Homo sapiens: one gene and its partners. The protein of the gene in region 2 interacts with the protein of the main gene of each other region in a pairwise test. Each region holds a gene or a part of one and is shown on either strand. Other genes may lie near its edges.

Region 1 (4,170 bases), on a different chromosome or scaffold from region 2:
AATTGGCCGGATGCGGTGGCTCACGCCTGTAATCCCAGCACTTTGGGAGGCAGAGGTGGGATGATCACTTGAGGCCAGGTATTGAATGAAGACCAGCCTGGGCAACATAATGAGACTTCTGCCTCTACAAAAATTGTTTTTAAAATAATTAATTTAAAAAGATACAATAGGCCGGGCGCGGTGGCTCACGCCTGTAATCCCAACACTTTGGGAGGCCGAGGTCGGCGGATCACGAGGTCAGGAGATCGAGACCATCCTGGCTAATATGGTGAAACCCCGTCTCTACTAAAAAATACAAAAAATTAGCTGGGCGTGGTGGCGAGCGCCTGTAATCCCAGTTGCTCGGGAGGCTGAGGCAGGAGAATGGCGTGAACCCGGGAGGCGGAGATTGCAGTGAGCCGAGATCACGCCACTGCACTCCAGCCCGGGAGAGAGTGAGACTCCGTCTCAAAAAAATAAATAAATAAAATAAAATAAACAAAATAAAAAGATACAATAAATTATTGGTAACTATAATCGTTGTATTGTGCTACCGAACACTGGATCTCATTCATTCTAACTGTATTTTTGTACCCATTTCCCCCCCTCCCCAGTACCCTTCCCAGCCTCTGGTAACCATCATTCTGCGATGTCCATTTTGCTTACTCTTTTTTTTTTTTTGAGATGGAGTCTCACTCTCGCCCAGGCTGGAGTGCAGTGGGGCAATCTTGGCTCACTGCAATCTCCACCTCCCGGGTTCAAGCGATTCTCCTGCCTCAGCCTCCCGTGTAGCTGGGATTACAGGCGCGCGCCACCACGCCCGGCTAATTTGTGTATTTTTAGTAGAGATGGGGTTTCACTATGTTGGCCCGGCTGGTCTCGAACTCCTGACCTCAGGTGATCCGCCCGCCTTGGCCTCCCAAAGTTCTGGGATTACAGGCATGAGCCACCGTGCCCGACCATCTTCCAAAACTGAGCTGTGATGTCCTTCCTCTAGAACACCTGACCACAGGACATGACTTTTTTTAATCCCCAGTGCCTAAGTGTCTAGAGAGCTGAGTGGGTTGCCTCGGATCGGCCAGGCCTGGATATCAGCGAACAGATGCGGATTTCCACCAGGGGGCGCTAGGACGCCACGACCTTTCACTATGTGCACCAGGGGGCGCTGCCGCCCGCCTTGGCCATCCCGGGCTGGGAAGTCCGACCCTTCGATTAAGCCCCGCCTGATTGGGAAAGGCTCTGAGAAACTATTTGCATGATCTTGAAAGAGCTGTGCTGAATGGTTGAGGTAGGTAAGCCGAATGTGAAACAGGCTCTCTCATTGGCCTAAATTCCCCCCCTCGATCTGCGTCGCCATCCCGGCCCTGCTGGACCCCGGGGTCAGTAGGAAGCCGCGGGGTGGTGGCGAGAGAGGACCCAGGTGTCCTGGCAGTGGGCGCCGCGGGGCACACGCTGGGCCAAGGTGCAGGCGGCCAGGGTGGGAGACTGTTCGCCCCGCCCTGAGTACTCCTATCTTGTTTCTCCACCTGTTCGGGAGTTGGAGATGTGCACCTAAAGGAGGCGCATCTGGGGACGGACACATCTGGCACTGAGGCCCTCGCCACCTGCCTCGCCACCTGGCGACCCTGACCCCACCACACTGCCTTGAGGTAGGAAAAGGAGGCTCCTCAACCACAACTTCTGACCTCCCAGGGTGTCTGAGGCCTCTAAAGAGCTTAGTTTGCCCCTCTGGGAAGTGAATCCTTGGCTTATGGTGCCGGGGGGACCCTGGAGGCCCCCTCACACGAAGGCTGCTTCTTGCAGAGTCGCTCAAAAGTAGGGCCCCAGGGCTCGCAGCAGCATGGGCACCGAGAAAGAAAGCCCAGAGCCCGACTGCCAGAAACAGTTCCAGGCTGCAGTGAGCGTCATCCAGAACCTGCCCAAGAACGGTGAGGCTGCGGGGACTCGCATTTGGACTCGCATTCAGGACGCCTGGGGTCTGACTCTGAAGAAAGAATGGTCCTGATCACTGCAGTTTTTGCAGACAAGCCCCTGCCTGGGCTGTCCTGGGGGTTCCCTCCGCTTCCTATCCTAGTCCAGATGCCCTGGGTGGGACCCATCACCACCTCTGCCCTTTCCAAGCAGGGTTCTCCCGCCCCTCCGCCCCTTGGAGCTGGGAGTGATGCTTTGCCCTGGCTTCCCAACTCTCTGCCCAGGTTCTTACCGCCCCTCCTATGAAGAGATGCTGCGATTCTACAGTTACTACAAGCAGGCCACCATGGGGCCCTGCCTGGTCCCCCGGCCCGGGTTCTGGGACCCCATTGGACGATATAAGTGGTGAGCTCCCTGCTGGCTGGGCAGACAAGCCTCAGCTGTCAAGCAGCCCTCTCACAGCCCTCTGCCCCCAGGGACGCCTGGAACAGTCTGGGCAAGATGAGCAGGGAGGAGGCCATGTCTGCCTACATCACTGAAATGAAACTGGTGGCACAGAAGGTAAGGGCTGCAGGTTCTCTGTCCCCAGGCTCCTGGCCAGGTGGCCTCACCCTTCCAGTTCTGACCCCCACTACGTTTCCTACACATGGACCCCCTCATGGGAATCACCACCTTCATGTTACCCCCAACCCTGCCTATCTTTGGCCCCTGACTGGGCACAGGGTGGAGGTGTGTGACAGGGCAGGAGCAGGGAGGAAGGGACAGGAGGCCACTCCGTCCCCAACAGACCCCCTCCCCTACAGGTGATCGACACAGTGCCCCTGGGTGAGGTGGCAGAGGACATGTTTGGTTACTTCGAGCCCCTGTACCAGGTGATCCCTGACATGCCGAGGCCCCCAGAGACCTTCCTGAGAAGGGTCACAGGTCAGACTCCCAGGCTGGGAGCTCCAAAAGTGCTGAGTGAACCGTCTTAGGTCTAGGCTGAGGTGGGCTGGGGGCAGAGGGCTCCAGGCGACATCCCTGTTAGGGCCCCCAAGCCCCCGAGAGGTGGATCCCAGGCAGCATCCACGGCTCATCACGAGTAGGGGCTTGATCACACTGGGAGGTGCCAGCCTCTCCCCAGGCCCACCTCTGGGTGCTGTGTCTTGGCAGGTTGGAAAGAGCAGGTTGTGAATGGAGATGTTGGGGCTGTTTCAGAGCCTCCCTGCCTCCCCAAGGAACCGGCACCCCCAAGCCCAGGTTAGTGCTTGAGCAGGAGGGGTGGACCAAACTCAGGCTGGGGGAGGGCTGGAGGGGAGAAGGCTGGATGCCACGCTGTGCCCTCCACAGACACTGAGACTTCCTGTGCTCCCAAAGGTGGGGACCGGGGTCTAGGATTCCTGTTCCAGGGCCTTGCTTCTGGCGCCCATCTGTGCCTCAGGTGTTGATATCTCTAGTGCCTCGTATCTCTAGTGTCTCCTAAACAGGTGCTTCTGCCCAGTGCACACTCCTGCTCTCCCTCCACAGCTTCCCTCTGGGCAGTAACTCTACCAACCCCTCCACAGAGTCCCATTCACCCAGGGACCTGGACTCCGAGGTTTTCTGTGATTCCCTGGAGCAGCTGGAGCCTGAGCTGGTGAGCCCAGTCCCCATTCCCCCCTTTTCCCACCCCACTGTGCTCCCACTCCCACCCTCAGCTCTCTGACTCATCTCAGCAGGTTTGGACAGAGCAGCGGGCAGCATCTGGAGGAAAGCGTGATCCCAGGAACAGCCCCGTGCCCCCCACAAAGAAAGGTGAGCTCCTACCCAACCTCTCACCCACTTCTGCCCTTTCCCGTGGTCCTGGCACCCCAGGCTTTCTCTTGGCTGCCTTCCTAGGGCAGAGTTGAAAGTCCATTGCTGGGCACTGAGCGAGAAGCCTCTGTCCAGGAAGGGCTGCCAACCAGCCAGATACCTGCCTGGATGGGCAAAGTCCCCGCCCTCCCTCCTCTCCCCAAAGGGCACCCAGGAGTCTGCACCCTCTGCAGGTCCTGAGTAAGGCCAGCGGGATGGGAGTCCTAGCCCAGTTCTCCCACCTACAGCTGCACAGCCTCAGGAAGTCATCCATATTCTCTGGACTCCCCCGTTTGGAAATCTCAGAAGACAATGAGTTCTGCCCTCTTCCCTTCTAGAACTCCTGTTGTGTGTCAGGTCCTGTATGGACATTTTGAAAAGTTTCTCCTTTTTTCCTCTGAGCAAGCAGCCCTGTGAGAGAAATGACATCTTCTCCTAATTTTTAGATGACAAAATGATGCCCAGAGA
Region 2 (3,515 bases):
CTAAAAATACAGAAAAATTAGCGGGGCTTGGTGGCGGGCGCCTGTAGTCCCAGCTACTCGGGAGGCTGAGGCAGGAGAATGGCGTGAACCTGGGGGGCGGAGCTTGCAGTGAGCTGAGATGGCGCCACTGCGCTCCAACCTGGGTGATAGAGCGAGACTCTGCCTCAAAAAAAAAAAATAAAATAAAATAAAATATTACCATTATTTAATGTACTTTTTAAAAAAGCAAGATAATCTAATTAAAAGTAGTCCCTGTTATACATGAGGGGTTTTTATGGTTAACATCTTAAAAGTTACTTAGATTTTTTGATTTTTTTTTTTTTTTGAGACTGAGCTTGCTCTGTCACCCAGGCTGGAGTGCAGTGGCATGACATTGGCTCACTGCAACCTCCACCCTCCAGATTCAAGCAATTCTCCTGTCTCAGCCTCCTGAGTAGCTGAGATTACAGGCGCTTGCCACTACACCCAGCTAATGTTTGTATTTTTTTTTAGTGGAAACAGGGTTTCGTCATGTTGGCCAGGCTGGTCTTGAACTCCTAACCTCAGGTAATCTGCCATCCTCAGCCTCCCAAAGTGCTGGGATTACAGGCAAGAGCCAACGCACTTGGCCCACGTTAGTTTTTTTTTTTTTTTTTTTTTTGAGATATGGTCTCACTCTGTCACCTAGGCTGGAGTGCAGTGGTATGATCAAAGCTAACTGCAGCCTCAGCTTCCCCAGGCTCAAGTGATTCTCCCACCTCAGCCTCCTGAGTAGCTGGGACTATAGGCATGCACCACCATGCTTGGTAATTTATTTATTTTATTTATTTATTCATTTATTTATTTTTTGGAGATGGAGTCCCTCTCTGTCGCCCAGGCTGAAGTGCAATGGCGCGATCTCAGCTCACTGCACCCTCCACGTCCCAGATTCAAGCGATTCTCCTGCCTCAGCCTTCTGAGTAGCTGGGATTACAGGCGTCTGCCACCACAACTAGCTAATTTTTGTATTTTTAGTAGAGATGGCATTTCACCATGTTGGCCAGGCTGGTCTTGAACTCCTGACCTCAGGTAATCCACCTGCCTCGGCCTCCCAAAGTGCTGGGATTACAGGCCTGAGCCACCGCACCTGGCTGCCTGGCTAATTTTTGTATTCTTTATAGAGATGGGTTTTCGCCATGTTGCCCAGGCTGGTTTCAAACTCCTGGCCTCAAGGGATCTGCCCACCTCGGCCTCCCAAAGTGCTAAGATTATGGTATGAGCCATTGCACCCAGCCAAAAGTTAGTTTTTTTTTAAAGCCAAGCCATGCGCCTGTAGTCTTAGCTACTTGGAAGGTTGAGATGGGAGAATCACTTGAGCTCAGAAGTTAAAGGCTAGCCTAGACAACATAAAGAAACCCTTGTCTCCAAAAATAAAACAATGAAATAAATGTTAATTTTTTAAAAAATATTGAACATCGGCTGGGTATGCCTGTAATCCCAGCACTTTGGAAGTCTAAGATAGGAGGATCACTTGAGGCTAGGAGTTCAAGACCAGCCTAGGCAACATAGTAAGACGCCATCTCTGCAAAAAAAATGTAAGAAAACTAGCCGGGCACAGTGGTACGCACCTGTAGTCCCAGCTACTGGGGAGGCTGAGGCAGGAGGATCACTTAAGCCTGGGAGGTCAAGGCTGCATTGAGCCATGATAGCACCACTGCACTCCAACCTGGGTGACAGGGTGAGACTCTGTCTCAAAAAAAAAAAATGTATGTATATATGTCCTATGTCTTCCTTTATTTATACTACTATATATATGTATATGCACACGCATACACACACACACACACACTGAAAGAAAATGATGAGAATATAGTTAGGTTTTAGGAGAGCAAGAGGAGGTAGGGGACTGTCTGTGATATTTTTTCTCAATATAGTAAGAGAAGAAAGAATATTTATTATGGACCAAATATACGTCTGGGTCATCTATTTCTGATCTAGTTAGTCTACTGGAGAAGAGGATGCTGTATCTGAAGCAAGATAAGTTAATGAAAAGAAAATTAGTTTTAATGTATTTCATAGTAAGTATTTTAGAAGAAAATATAATAAATGAAGGAAAGCATAAGTGGACTCATCATCTTAGTTGCAGAACATTTCTAGAAATGACATCTAAGATTAGGCCACTAAAGGAAGCATTCTTTTCACTTTGTATTTCAGTCTCTCTGGGGTCATTGGTGGAAAATGGCAAAGCAGTCTGTGAAGCAGAAAGTGCGTGTATTTGTTGAGCAGTGTCTTGTGGGTAGAACACTGAAATGCTGAGGGGTGAAAAGGAAAACTGGCTTTCAGGGAGAGAGGGAAAAATGGACTGCTCGTCACTCTTTTCTGATCTTCTTAATGAATGACCCCTCTCCTCTACTTGTTATTTGATAATGACTACTCAAAATTTCATTGTTCCCTTCTTTTTAGCTAGAATGGGTACTAGGAAAAAAGTTCATGCATTTGTCCGTGTCAAACCCACCGATGACTTTGCTCATGAAATGATCAGATACGGAGATGACAAAAGAGTAAGTGCGATGTGTTTGCCTTCAACTGACTGGGCCTCTCTGTCCCACCTTGCTATAGTGTGACCGTATTTCCAAGCAACCTTTGAAGGACCAAGACAGAATTGGACAGGATCCAATGGACTCTAGAGCCCATCAAATCCAAACCACCCCCTCACACACTGCTAATGAAGAAATTAATAAAATCCCATCGTTAATTGTCTTTTAATAATTTTACCTTTAATAAATTAATAAGTTTACCTTTACCCTCGTATCTGACACAGAAGAATTGACATTTGTTCACATTCATAAAGCTTTCTAATGATTGATCTGTCATTGTATAATCGCCCATGGGGTGCAGTAAGAATATCTTGAGTTCATTACTGTTTAGCTTATCAAAACAGCTGGAGAAATACTTATCAAGAGAAGTGGAAAGATATATCCGTCCCTATATCCTCACCCTGAGAATGCTTCTGAAGGCTTAGGACAGTGTAAGAGTGTTAGATATTTTCATTCAGCAAACAATTATGGGCCTACTCTGGGCAGCATTGAGACATTCTTCAAAGGAAAAATTCAAGGGCAAACTGCCCAAGCCTCGCAGGTCCTAGCGGTCAGAAAAGAGCTCACATGCAGCCCTATCAAATGTGTCCTGCTGGACATGGTTTTCAGCGAACACAGAAGCACAGAGCATTTAATGTGTGAGTGGACCAAGTCTTTCTTTCTTTCTTTTCTTTTTTTTTTTTTTTTTTTGAGACAGAGTCCCACTCTGTTGCCCAGGCTGGAGTACAGTGGCACAATCTTGGCTCACTGCAACCTCCGCCTCCCAGGTTCAAGCGATCGTCCTGCCTCAGCCCTGCTAGTAGCTGGGATTACAGGCACGTGCCACCATGCCTGGCTAATTTTTGTATTTTTAGTAGAGACGGGGTTTTGCCATGTTGGCCAGGCTGGTCTGGAACTCCTGACCTCAGGTGATCTACCTGCCACGGCCTCCCAAAGTGCTGGGATTACAGGCGTGAGCCA
Region 3 (3,515 bases), on a different chromosome or scaffold from region 2:
GCTCATGGCAATCTTCAGAATATCTACATTCTCATGGTACTGATTCAGTCATACACCCAGGATTATGCAAAATACACAGGTATCTGTGTGTTCCCTTGACCTTAGGAAACCTGAATTTTTTATAATGGATAGTTAGAATGCCTACCCTTTGCTGTAGAAGGAGACCGACTCTGTCTTCCAAGGCTGTTCACTGTATAAACAACTTGGTAAAATAGTGCAGAACAAAAACACTTAGTACCTCTTCTTGCAAGATACGCAGAAACATGCAAGACCCATGGAGAATTGTCTCCCATCAAATTTGGCCATTTCCTTGTTACTTCATTTTCCAACAGAGAGAAACCTGCTTCTCAGAATCAATAATTAGCTCTATCCTAGAATACATGCAAATTAGTTCAGAGTTGCCAACCTGGACCTGTGTAAAAAGTATTTAGTAACTACAGTAGAGAATCTCTGTGTAGCTCTTTTTCTTTAAGCTTATAGTATATAGTAAACAAACATCTTCCAAAGTTACTCAATTTAGTTCTTTTCTTTGCCACTCTTTTCAGTATGTTTTTTTTTTTTCTTACATTTTTCTTACATTTAAGGATCATTTGTTGCATTTTGGGTTCCCCCACATCCTGGTTGATTGTAGCAGGCTACACTATTTTGAATGTGAAAACATTCGCAGGGGACAGTGGCTCACTCCTGTAATCCCAACACTTTGGGAGGCCGAGGCCGGCGAATCACGAGGTCAGGAGATCAAGACCATCCTGGCTAACACGGTGAAACCCCGTCTCTACTAAAAATACAAAAAATTAGCCGGGCGTGGTGGCGGGCGCCTGTAGTCCCAGCTACTGGAGAGGCTGAGGCAGGAGAATGGCGTGAACCTGGGAGGCGGAGCTTGCAGTGAGCCGAGATCGCGCCACTGCACTCCAGCCTGGGCGACAGAGCGAGACTCCGTCTCAAAATAAATAAATAAATAAATAAAAATTAACTTAGTTCCCACAGACTCCTTGTATATATTCAACTTCATTCGTTTCTGCTTTATCCTTGCTGTGTTTCTTTTGCACAAATGAAGAGTTACCTATATTCTTTTTACATTAAAGATAGCATTCTCTAGGCACTCTTTTGTACATTGTTTCTTTCTCTTAATGATACATTCTGGATAACACTCAGGCAGTTAAAGAGATATTCATAATTCTTTTCTAATTGTTACATAATACTGCAGCCTGTGGATTTATCATAGTTTATTGAACCGCTTTCCTACGTATGGATATTTAGGTCATTTACAATATTTTGTTACTAGAAACAGTGCTGCAATAACCTTGTATATATGTATTTTTCTATTGCTGGAGGAGTATCTTTAGGGTAGATTCCTAGAAGCGGTATTGCTGGGTCAAAAGGTAAGTGCTTTGTAGTTTTGTTAAGTATTGCAAAATTCCTCTCTAGAACTGTTGTACCAGTTTTTATTCCTACTTGCTGTGTATGAGCATGTCTGTTTCCCTTCACAGCCCACCTAACAGAATATGTTGTCATGTTTTTTAGTTTTCACCAGTCTAATAGATGAGAAATAGTACCTCAGTGTTCTTTTCTTTTTTTTTTTTTTTTTTTTTTCCCGAGACAGTGTCTTGCTCTGTTGCCGGGGCTGGAGTGCAGTGGCGCGATCTCGGCTCACTGCAACCTCCGCCTCCTGGGTTCAAGTGATTCTCCTGCCTCAGCCTCCTGAGTAGCTGGGACTACAGGCGCGTGCCGCCACGCCCAGCTAATTTTTGTATTTTTGGTAGAGATGGGGTTCCACCATGTTGGCCAGGCTGGTCCCAAATTCCTGACCTCAGGTGATCCACCAGACTCGGCCTCCCAAAGTGCTGAGATTACAGGTATGAGCCCCTGTGCCCAGCCCTCATTGTTGTTTTCTTATTTCTCTCATTATGAGTGTGTTTGAACATTTCAGAGTCTTTTAAAAGATTGCCTGTTTATGTCTTTCCCCATTTTTGTAGCAGATATTTATTTAGTACTTTGTCTTTTATGACTAGTGCTTTTTTTTGAAACGAAGTCTCACTCTTGTTGCCCAGGCCGGAGTTCAGTGGTGTGATCTCAGCTTACTGCAACCTCTGTCTCCTGGGTTCAAGCGATTTTCCTGCCTCAGCCTCCTGAGTAGCTGGGATTACAGGCGTCTGCCACCATGCCCGGCTAATTTTTTTTGTATTTTTAGTAGAGACAGCATTTCAACATGTTGGCCAGGCTGGTCTCGAACTCCTGACCTCAGGTGTTCCGCCTGCCTTGGTGGGCCTTGGCCTCCCAAAGTGCTGGGATTACAGGCATAAGCCACCACGCCTGGCCCCGAAGCTTTTAAACATTCACATTCACACTTAAGTCTGTGATCCCTCTTAAATTAATTCTTATGTATGGGGTAAAGGTTAATTTTTTTTTTTCCAGTTGGGTGCCTAGTTGTTTCAGCACTGTTTATTGAAAAGATTGTCCTTGCCCATCTAAACTGCATGGAGGCTGGGCAAGGTGGCTCACGCCTGTAATCCCAGCACTTTGGGAGGCCGAGGCAGGCAGATCACCTGAGGTCAGGAATTTGAGACCAGCCTGGCCAACATGGTGAAACCCTGTCTCCACTAAAAATACAAAAATTAGCCGGGTGTGGTGGCAGCCACCTGTAATCCCAGCTACTCCAGAGGCTGAGGCAGGAGAATTGCTTGAACCTGGGAGGCAGAGGTTACAGTAAACCAAGATCTTGCCACTGCACTCCAGCCTGCGTGACAGAGTGAGACTCTGTCTCAAAAAAAAAAAAAAGAAAAAAAAATTGCATGGAGTCTTTGTCATAAATCAGGTGACAGTATATACATGTGGTTATGTGGCTCTCTTTCTGGACTCTATATTCTATTTGGTTTTATTGTTTTGTCTGTACTGCTGTCTTGAAATCTGTAGTTTTAGTCCTCCTACTTTTTTTCTTTTCCAAGCTATCTCGGCTATTATAAGCTCTTCTAATTTCCAAATAAATGTTAGAATCAACTTGCTAATTTTTACCTTATTCCCCCCAAAGCCTTGCTGGGGTTTTCTTTACAAATATATGTGTTCATTTTGGGGCCTGATGCAGTGGCTCACACCTGTAATCCCAGCACTTTGGGAGTCCAAGGCTGGAGGATTGCTTGAGCCCAAGAGTTTAAGACAAGCCTGGGCAACACAGTGAGACCCTGTCTCTACCAAAACAAAAACAAAAACAAAAAAACAACTAAAACCAAGCAAACACGCAAACAAACAAAGAAACAAAACCCCAAACATTTAGCTGGACTTGATGGCGTGCTTCTACTCCTCGCTTCTCAGGAGGCTGGGGTGGGAGAATCCCTTGAGCCCCACAGGTTGAGGCTACAGCGAGCTTTGATCGTGCCACGGCACTCCGACCTGGGTAACAAAGCAAGACCCTGATTCAAAAACAAAAACAAAAACTGTGTTCATTTTGGGAGAATTGACATCAATATTCAATCTATAGTACATATGGTATATGTCGACATTTGTTAAGATCCTTAATT
Region 4 (4,176 bases), on a different chromosome or scaffold from region 2:
TTATGGAGGAGTGGCAGAAAAGTGTGGTGGTTAGGAGAGCAAATGTAAGTGTTAGAAGAGTCCATTTTGATTCCGGTTCTGTCGTTTATCAGTTGTGAATTTGGGAAATGTATCTAACTCCTCTGAGATTTACAATGTCCTCAAATATCAAGATGTAGAGAACACTTAATCTCTTAGGGCCTCTCTGTCTTTGCCATCATCATCATGGTTATTACGTACTTTGGATTTTCTCATCTTAATTTTTTCTCCTACCTGAAATTGCCATGTTATTCCCCTTAAACCCTTAGATTAAGAGATGGCTGCAATGTACTACTATGCTGCTAATAGTAAATATTTATTGTACACTTACTATATGCCAAGTGCTTTTAGTGCATTATCTCATTCAATCTTTACAACCCCTCCACGAGATAAATACTGGTGTCATCTATAATTTATAGTTAGAAACAGAACTCGCCTAGAACTGGACATTGCTGATTTCACTTCCCCCTTTTCCTGCCCACCACCCTGACTGCCAACTGACTTCGGAACTCCAAAAAGGCATCCATGAAAACGACAGGAATTGCCTGCAGGAAATTGAATGCTCCAGGAGTTTGACACTAAAAAGATTGGGAACTGTCCACCAACTTGTGCTACCGAGAATAGTGGTTGTTGAAAGGAATTTCGGTCTCTATCCAAACTTACTTTTCCTCAGGGATGTGTCAATTACCTCCAAGTCCTGTTCAGAAGGGTAGCTGGAAAAACAGTGAAACCAAGTAACTCACCTGAGAACAAGCCGGGAGTAGTGCAAAGGAATCAACCAGACTCTTAATTTATTACAAAGTCCAGCCACTCCGTTTGCTTTCTAAAAACCTTGTTGCCTGGTATTGAGTAAAAGATGCTATAAAGGACGAACACGTTTGGAAGTAATAATAATCTGCTATTATGCGACATAATTTTCTCCACATTTGTTGTTATTTTTCTGATAATAAATTTCATACTTTTTATTGGAAAACCACAGAAAATGCAAAAAATAGCTAAGCCGTTGGTATGTTTCTATCTAGATTTCAATTAAATTTTAATTATTCTCTCCCCGTGCCTAGCCCCCCTTGCCCCATTTTTAAAAAGACCTGGAGTTCAGGGTAGGAGACATCAAGAGCATCCTAGAGGGCAGCAGCACAAATTCACTCCCCTCCAGACCCTGCAGCTTGCTTCGCCCATCTCCCCTCCCCCTGAGCTTGGTCGCTTATCATTGGTCATTGCCATGGCAACCAGCAGCTGCCGGGCCAGCAGCCTCTACCGCAGCAGGGGTGGGGCACTGGGGGAGGGGGAGAGAGAGAGGAGGAGCCAGAGGAGGTGTCTGCTGCAAGTTCCTGGCTGCTTCCGAGCTCACCCCATCCTCCGAGAGGGAGGAGGCCCAACTGGTGATGCTGCTGCTGCTGCTGCTGCCGCCGCCGCCGCCTCTATTGCTGATACTCTAGTGGGGCTGGAAGGGTGGTTCCTATTCGCACCATCGCCAACCAGAGACAGAGGGAAAAAAAAAACCGGCAGCCACTGCTGATGTTGGGTTCGGAGGCTGCATCCGACTCGGTCACAAGGAAAATGGATTCAGTTTGCATCTCTCCCTCCTTTAAACAGCTTCTCCGGGTCTCAGCATGGTGAGTAGGAAACAGTAGGGCTCCCTTCTTGGTTTAGAGTGTTCTTATTTGACCTGTGTATACATTTCTGGCCTGAACTTGAACAATGACTCCCGTGCCTCAGACTAGAAGGGGGAGATGTGGAGACAGAGATGAGGATGGAGGGAGAGGAAGCTTGCCAGGAAGAGAGAAGTGAGAAGACAACCTCTTGTGTTTAAAAAAAAAAAATGGTGTTCTGATTTTATCTCTAACTGGCTCAGAATGCAGACTGAGCCACTTGGTGCCTTTTTTCCTAAGCTTAGCAACAGCATCAGGGGTTGGAAAAAGAGCTAACAACAAGAAGAGGGTGTTATTGAAAGGAATCATTTCATTTGCAGCTCTCACATACAGGGTTGGGCCTTCTTCAGAAATACATTTGGTGTCTCATAAGCTTACCAGACTCATTATAAGGTGGTTTTGCTTATTTTATTGATTGCTTAGAAAAAGTGGCCCCAGAATTTGACATTTTATTTTATATTCTAATATACTCTTGTTGAGAAATCATTTGCAAGACCCAGTTTTATTTTATACGTAGATTTGACTGTGAACTTACACATGTATATCTTATGGATATACAGATCATATATACACATGTCACTTAGCATTTATATTGCATTTATGAAGCATATTTATATGTAGGGTGTGCTTTGCAACCATTTTTATGGGTTACATATGTCCTTGCATGCCTGGAAGTAATTGCATGTTTTTGAAACTATGCTTCTGGTTTATATTATTATTCATTGGCTTTATTTGGATTAATGTGAAATTTACTCTGGTTATTGTCCCTTAGTTTCATTGTGACCGATTGGAACAGATGCCTATCGTTTGATCTGTGTCATAGAACTAGATGCAAATTTGTAGCCTGCCTCTTTATTTTTAATTGGGTTTGTGGGGGATGATATTGAGGACTCTGAATTTACAATGATGGGAATGGGAGGCGGTTTGTGGTATTATTTTGTGTCTAGCATCTTACCAAATCAATGTTGAAGCAAATCAGTTTTCTTGAAATGCCACCCCAACCTTTTCATGTTTGTGCCTTGTGTCCCAGGAAGCACAGCTAAGCTGGAAGGTGAAATGTATTCATTTTATTTAATAGTGCTGCTATCTGATGTTCATTCCTTCAGTATCCAGGAACCATTTCACAGTTCTCTCAGATGTTGTATTAAGGGTCTCCTTCTGTAAATAATTAAGTAGGAAAGTAGGATTGTTTTGAAAATCTAGGTATTCCCAAGCACCCTAGCCCAGCCGTTTCCAAATTAGTCTGCTTATACAATGAAATGAAACCAGAGAGTGAGCAAAGCGAGCAGGAGAATGTGTGGCTTGTAGCTGAAATGGGGGTCTATTGTAATTTACAAATGCTTACTGGGATCTGCTTGACCTTTTATTATGTCAAGGCTTTAAGGCAGTTCAGGAGACTAAAGATGCGTGAGATGAGGAGGTTCCATTCCCGCCCAGGATAATGGATTTCATTGAATTAAAGCCAGAAAAAATTATGTAGGTAAAGTGTATTAGTAATATTACATTTACCACATGGGCTATTATAGTTTTATCCATTATTCTCTTCTCTAACAATATCATTGTCAGTACAGACATTTTTTACAATGTAAAATAACAATTGTTTGGGTCTTTAGTCTTGCATCTGATTCTACATACACCCCCCACATTTATAATTTTCACATGTATTTGAACCAGGTTTATAGTTTAATTTTGCTGAGAATAATTGTTCTATTTGGTTTATACATGAGAAGGGCCCTTGGTGACTCAATTGTGCATGTGCTCATAGCATGTTATATATTATAGATCCATAGCTTTGTAAACTCATGCTACTTTGTGCCTAATTTTAACAACTATATGAAGTAGGGCAAGGAAAGAGGTACTGGGCTTGTATGTTATAACAAATTGTATAACACATTGCATCCTGAATCTTTTAGTGATAACACTTGACTTCCAAAAATTAAAATGTTAGATATGCCTATAGCACACTTAAAAAATTAAGATTTGTACTAGTTGACCCCATTTCATGCAATGAAAGCAGATATCCTGGGGCTTTGTTTTTGTTTCTTTTTTTTGAGTTTTCATTTGGAGGTGGTTTTATAGGCAAAGTTGGTACAGTTTGAACAGAGGCAAATCCCTTAGGCCATGTGCTTAAAACTCCTTGTAGATAGCCTGTTTCAGCTATGTGTCAGCTATTACCCTGATAGAAATACAGGTCTAGCTTTTGACCCCACTATTTAAGACAATTATATGGCCTTTGCTAAGGGGCCATAGAAAAGTGAAGTGTGTTTCAAGCACTAGAAGTTGAACTCTCTGAGGAAAGATTTTTAAAAGCTAGGATCATTTCATTTAGAGAAGAGAAAAATGAAATATGGCAATCGTTTGTTTCAGATAAGCTAAGCATGGGGCATAAGCACAGGACATTGCTTATTGCTATTTTTTGGAACCTCAAATGTAGTCAATGGGCTTCAACTTTATGAGGAATTATGAAGATGAGAAATATGCAAATGTAGAAGTTCCTCATAGTAAG
Region 5 (3,515 bases), 2.8 Mb from region 2:
TAGTTCAATTTTCAACAAATAAAAGGGTGGCCAGATTATAAAGAAAATTAGGTATTTACCAATCATCCTCATCTAATAAGTAACTAATTCAATAAAAATATATTGATTATCTTCTAGGAGCTAATGAAGACAGAAGACCTGCTCCCTGTGGTTAAAGACATTTAGAAAACTCATACATTGAGCTTCAAAGCCTAAATATGGTAATTTACTTCTTTTTGTTTTTGAGACAGGGTCTTGTTCTGTCACCCAGGCTGGAGTGCAATGGCGTGATCTTGGCTCATTGTAAACTCCGCCTCCCAGGTTCAAGCCATTCTCCTGTCTCAGCACCTCCCCAAGTAGCTGGGACTACAGGTATGCACCACCACACCTAGCTAATTCTTGTATTTTTAGTAGAGACAGGGTTTCACCATGTTGGCCAGGCTGGTCTCAAATTCCTGACCTCAAGTGATCCACCCGCCTCGACCTCCCAAAGTGCCTGGGATTACAGGCATGAGCCACCGCGCCTGGCCAAAATGGTAACTTACTTCTGAACCTAGTTCAGTGAACTTTTCCCTAAAGACAGAAAAATATTTCACTAGCTGAGATAGATACAGGTTGAGCAACCCTAATCCAAAAATTTGAAATGCTCCAAAATCTGAAATTTTCTGAGCACTAACATGACACAACAAGTGGAAAATTCCACCCCTGACCTTATTTGAAAGGTCACAGACAAGAGGGCAGTCAAACCTTTTAGTCCAGGCAACATACTTAGCCCAGCCTGGCTCTACAAAAAATAAATTAGCTGGGTGTGGTGGCATGCACCTGCCAGCTACTGAAGTAAAAAGATCACTTGAGCCCAGGAGTTTGAGGCTGCAGTGAGCTATGATTGCATTGCTATACTCCAGACTGGGTGACAATGAGACCCTGCCTGTAAAAAACAGAAACAAAAATATCACAAACAAAAAAACAAAGCACACATTGTTTTGTGTATAAAATTATTTAAAGTGTTGGCCGGGCAAGGTGGCTCACGCCTGTAATCCCAGCACTTTGGGAGGCCGAGGCGGGTGGCAGGAGATGGAGACCACAGTGAAACCCCGTCTCTACTAAAAATACGAAAAAAGTTAGCCGGGTGCGGTGGCGGGCGCCTGTAGTCCCAGCTACTCAGGAGGCTGAGGCAGGAGAATGGCGTGAACCCGGGAGGCAGAGCTTGCAGTGAGCCGAGGTTGTACCACTGCACTCCAGCCTGGGTGACAGAGCAAGACTCTGTCTTAAAAAAAAAAAAAAAAAATTATTTAAAGTGTTGTATAAAATTACCTTTGGCATGTATAAGACATATACAAAATACAAATGAATTTCATGTTTAGACTTATGTAAATGCAAATGTTTAAACTTATGTAAATGCAAATATTAAAAAAAAATATCAAAACAGTTCTGGTCCCAAGCATTTTGGATAAGGGATACTCAACCTCTATTGGCTTAAGATAAAACAATAGCATGAGAAAATAATGGTAGAAGCTCAAAGTTCATTGTGCCTACTGACTGCTGGTTATAACTGTCATTTCCCCTTACATCGCTCTCTGTGATGGTGATGGGAAGGCCGCGCAGCATGATGGTCTTGCTCTCCCTCTCGTCACTGATGTCATGCCTATAGTCGTGCTCACCATAGTCACCATCTGAATGGTAGCCATCTTCGGATCGGTCACTGTTCCTTCTTTCACGCTCTCTCTGAGTTACAATAAACAAAATCACAATTAACATCACCCTGTACTCTTTGAAACAGACCCTCCACTCCTAGAAATTATCCTTAGCAGGAAGTGTACAGAGATTACACAAGCACTCCATGGTAATGTTCACTGCAATTTTTTTTTTTTGAGACAGGGGTCTCACTATGTTACCCAGGCTGGTCTGAACTCCTGGCCTCAAATGACCCTCCTGCTATGGCCTCCCAAAGTGCTGGGATTATAGGCACACCCAGCCTGCTGTGTTTTCTTTTTTTTTTTTTTTGAGACAGTTTCACTCTTATTGCCCAGACTGGAGTGCAGTGGTGCGATGATCTCTGCTCACTGCAACCTCTGCCTCCTGGGTTCAAGCAATTCTCCTCCTTCAGCCTCCCGAGTAGTTGGGACTATAGGCACTTGCCACCACGCCCAGCTAATTTTTTGTATTTTTAGTAGAGACAGGGTTTCACCATGTTAGCCAGGATGGTCTCAATCTTCTGACCTCATGATCCGCCCGCCTCGGCCTCCCAAAGTGCTGGGATTACAGGCGTAAGCCACCGTGCCGGCCTTCTGGTTTTTTTTTTTTTTGAGACAGAGTCTCCCTCTGTCGTCCATGCTGGAGTGCAATGGCATGATCTCAGCTCACTGCAACCACTGCCTCCCAGGCTCAAGCAATTCTCGTACCTCAGCCTCCTGAGTAGCTGAGGTCGCACCACTGCACTCCAGCCTGGGTGACAAGACTAAAAAGCTGTCTCAAAAAAAAAAAAAAAAAAAAAAAAAAAAGATATATCAAGATGACCAAAACAACAACTTATATTTATTATTTTTCATTATTATTATTTTAAAGACAGGGTCTCCCTATGGTGCCCAGGCTGGCCTCTAACTCCTGGGCTCAAGGGATCCTCCTGCCTCGGCCTCCCAAATTGTTGGGATTACAGGTGTGAGCCACTGTGCCTGGCCAACAACTTATATTTATCATTCATTTCAAAACACAGAACTAATATGTTATCATAACCCCATTGTTTCATCTTTAAAATGGGAATAACACCTACCTTATCAGGTTGTACTGAGACCTAAATGAATTCATGAAGTCAAGTGCTCAAAAGTACATGGTGATCCCTATGTAAACCCTGGCCATTATTTCTTTTCTTTTTTTTTTTTTTTTGAGATGGAGTCTTGCTTTGTCACCCATGCTGGAGAGCACTGATACAATCTCAGCTCACTGCAACCTCCGCCTCCCAGGTTTCAAGTGATTCTCTTACCTCAGTCTCCCAAGTAGCTGGGATTACAGGCGCCCACCACCCCACTCAGCTAATTTTTGTATTTTTAGTAGAGACGGGTTTTACTATGTTGGCCAGACTGGTCTTAAACTCCTGACCTCAAGTGATCTGGCCGCCTTGGCCTCCCAAAGTGATAGGATTATGGGAAGGGGCCACTGGACCTGGCTGCCTGGCTGTTATTTCTATTACTATAAGGCTCAGAGTGTTTTGGGGGGTTATACAGCCGCTGGTCACTCACCTCTGGACTGTCATAGTCTCGGTAGTCATCATATCTATCACCCCTCCGATCATCACTAGATCTTTTGTAATCTGAGTCCCTCCGCCTGCTTCGGGATTCACGCTCATCACGGTCATCCCTGTCTATGATGGAACCGTATCTTCCACTACGCTCTGTTCTACTCACTCTGCCAGGGAAAATAATTTTCATTCTAAAGTCAGTCACATTTTGTACCTTTAAAAGACATAGTTAAAAATACACACGGCCCACAGATCAGTTTATAAGATAATCCAAATAGTTTAAAGTGTTAAAAAGTATTAC

What was found.
Region 1: the proteins of KIF9 (region 2) and ACBD4 interact in a two-hybrid assay, tested with the Homo sapiens proteins (one large-scale study listed by BioGRID and IntAct).
Region 3: the proteins of KIF9 (region 2) and ZNF566 interact in binary tests that used the Homo sapiens proteins (3 or more experiments, as listed by UniProt).
Region 4: the proteins of KIF9 (region 2) and JAKMIP2 interact in a two-hybrid assay, tested with the Homo sapiens proteins (one large-scale study listed by BioGRID).
Region 5: the proteins of KIF9 (region 2) and RBM5 interact in a two-hybrid assay, tested with the Homo sapiens proteins (one large-scale study listed by BioGRID).

What each region holds. Positions count from the first base shown.
Region 1 is NC_000017.11:45,134,326-45,138,495, forward strand, and holds the start of ACBD4 (acyl-CoA-binding domain-containing protein 4), read left to right. Parts: upstream 1-1,361; 5' UTR 1,362-1,628; exon of another isoform or gene 1,629-1,782; 5' UTR 1,783-1,819; coding exon 1,820-1,907; intron 1,908-2,174; coding exon 2,175-2,295; exon of another isoform or gene 2,296-2,366; coding exon 2,367-2,451; intron 2,452-2,693; coding exon 2,694-2,814; intron 2,815-3,042; coding exon 3,043-3,129; intron 3,130-3,396; coding exon of another isoform or gene 3,397-3,434; coding exon 3,435-3,505; intron 3,506-3,566; coding exon of another isoform or gene 3,567-3,587; coding exon 3,588-3,663; intron 3,664-3,950; coding exon of another isoform or gene 3,951-4,040; exon of another isoform or gene 4,041-4,170. UniProt on the Homo sapiens protein: Binds medium- and long-chain acyl-CoA esters and may function as an intracellular carrier of acyl-CoA esters.
Region 2 is NC_000003.12:47,276,286-47,279,800, reverse strand, and holds part of KIF9 (kinesin-like protein KIF9), read left to right. Parts: intron 1-2,421; coding exon of another isoform or gene 2,422-2,426; coding exon 2,427-2,519; intron 2,520-3,515. UniProt on the Homo sapiens protein: Essential for normal male fertility and for progressive motility of spermatozoa.
Region 3 is NC_000019.10:36,479,552-36,483,066, reverse strand, and holds part of ZNF566 (zinc finger protein 566), read left to right. Parts: intron 1-3,515. UniProt on the Homo sapiens protein: May be involved in transcriptional regulation.
Region 4 is NC_000005.10:147,779,914-147,784,089, reverse strand, and holds the start of JAKMIP2 (janus kinase and microtubule-interacting protein 2), read left to right. Parts: upstream 1-1,361; 5' UTR 1,362-1,631; coding exon of another isoform or gene 1,632-1,634; intron 1,635-4,176.
Region 5 is NC_000003.12:50,091,909-50,095,423, reverse strand, and holds part of RBM5 (RNA-binding protein 5), read right to left. Parts: intron 3,382-3,515; coding exon 3,216-3,381; intron 1,705-3,215; coding exon 1,549-1,704; intron 1-1,548. UniProt on the Homo sapiens protein: Component of the spliceosome A complex. Binds to ssRNA containing the consensus sequence 5'-AGGUAA-3'. Regulates alternative splicing of a number of mRNAs.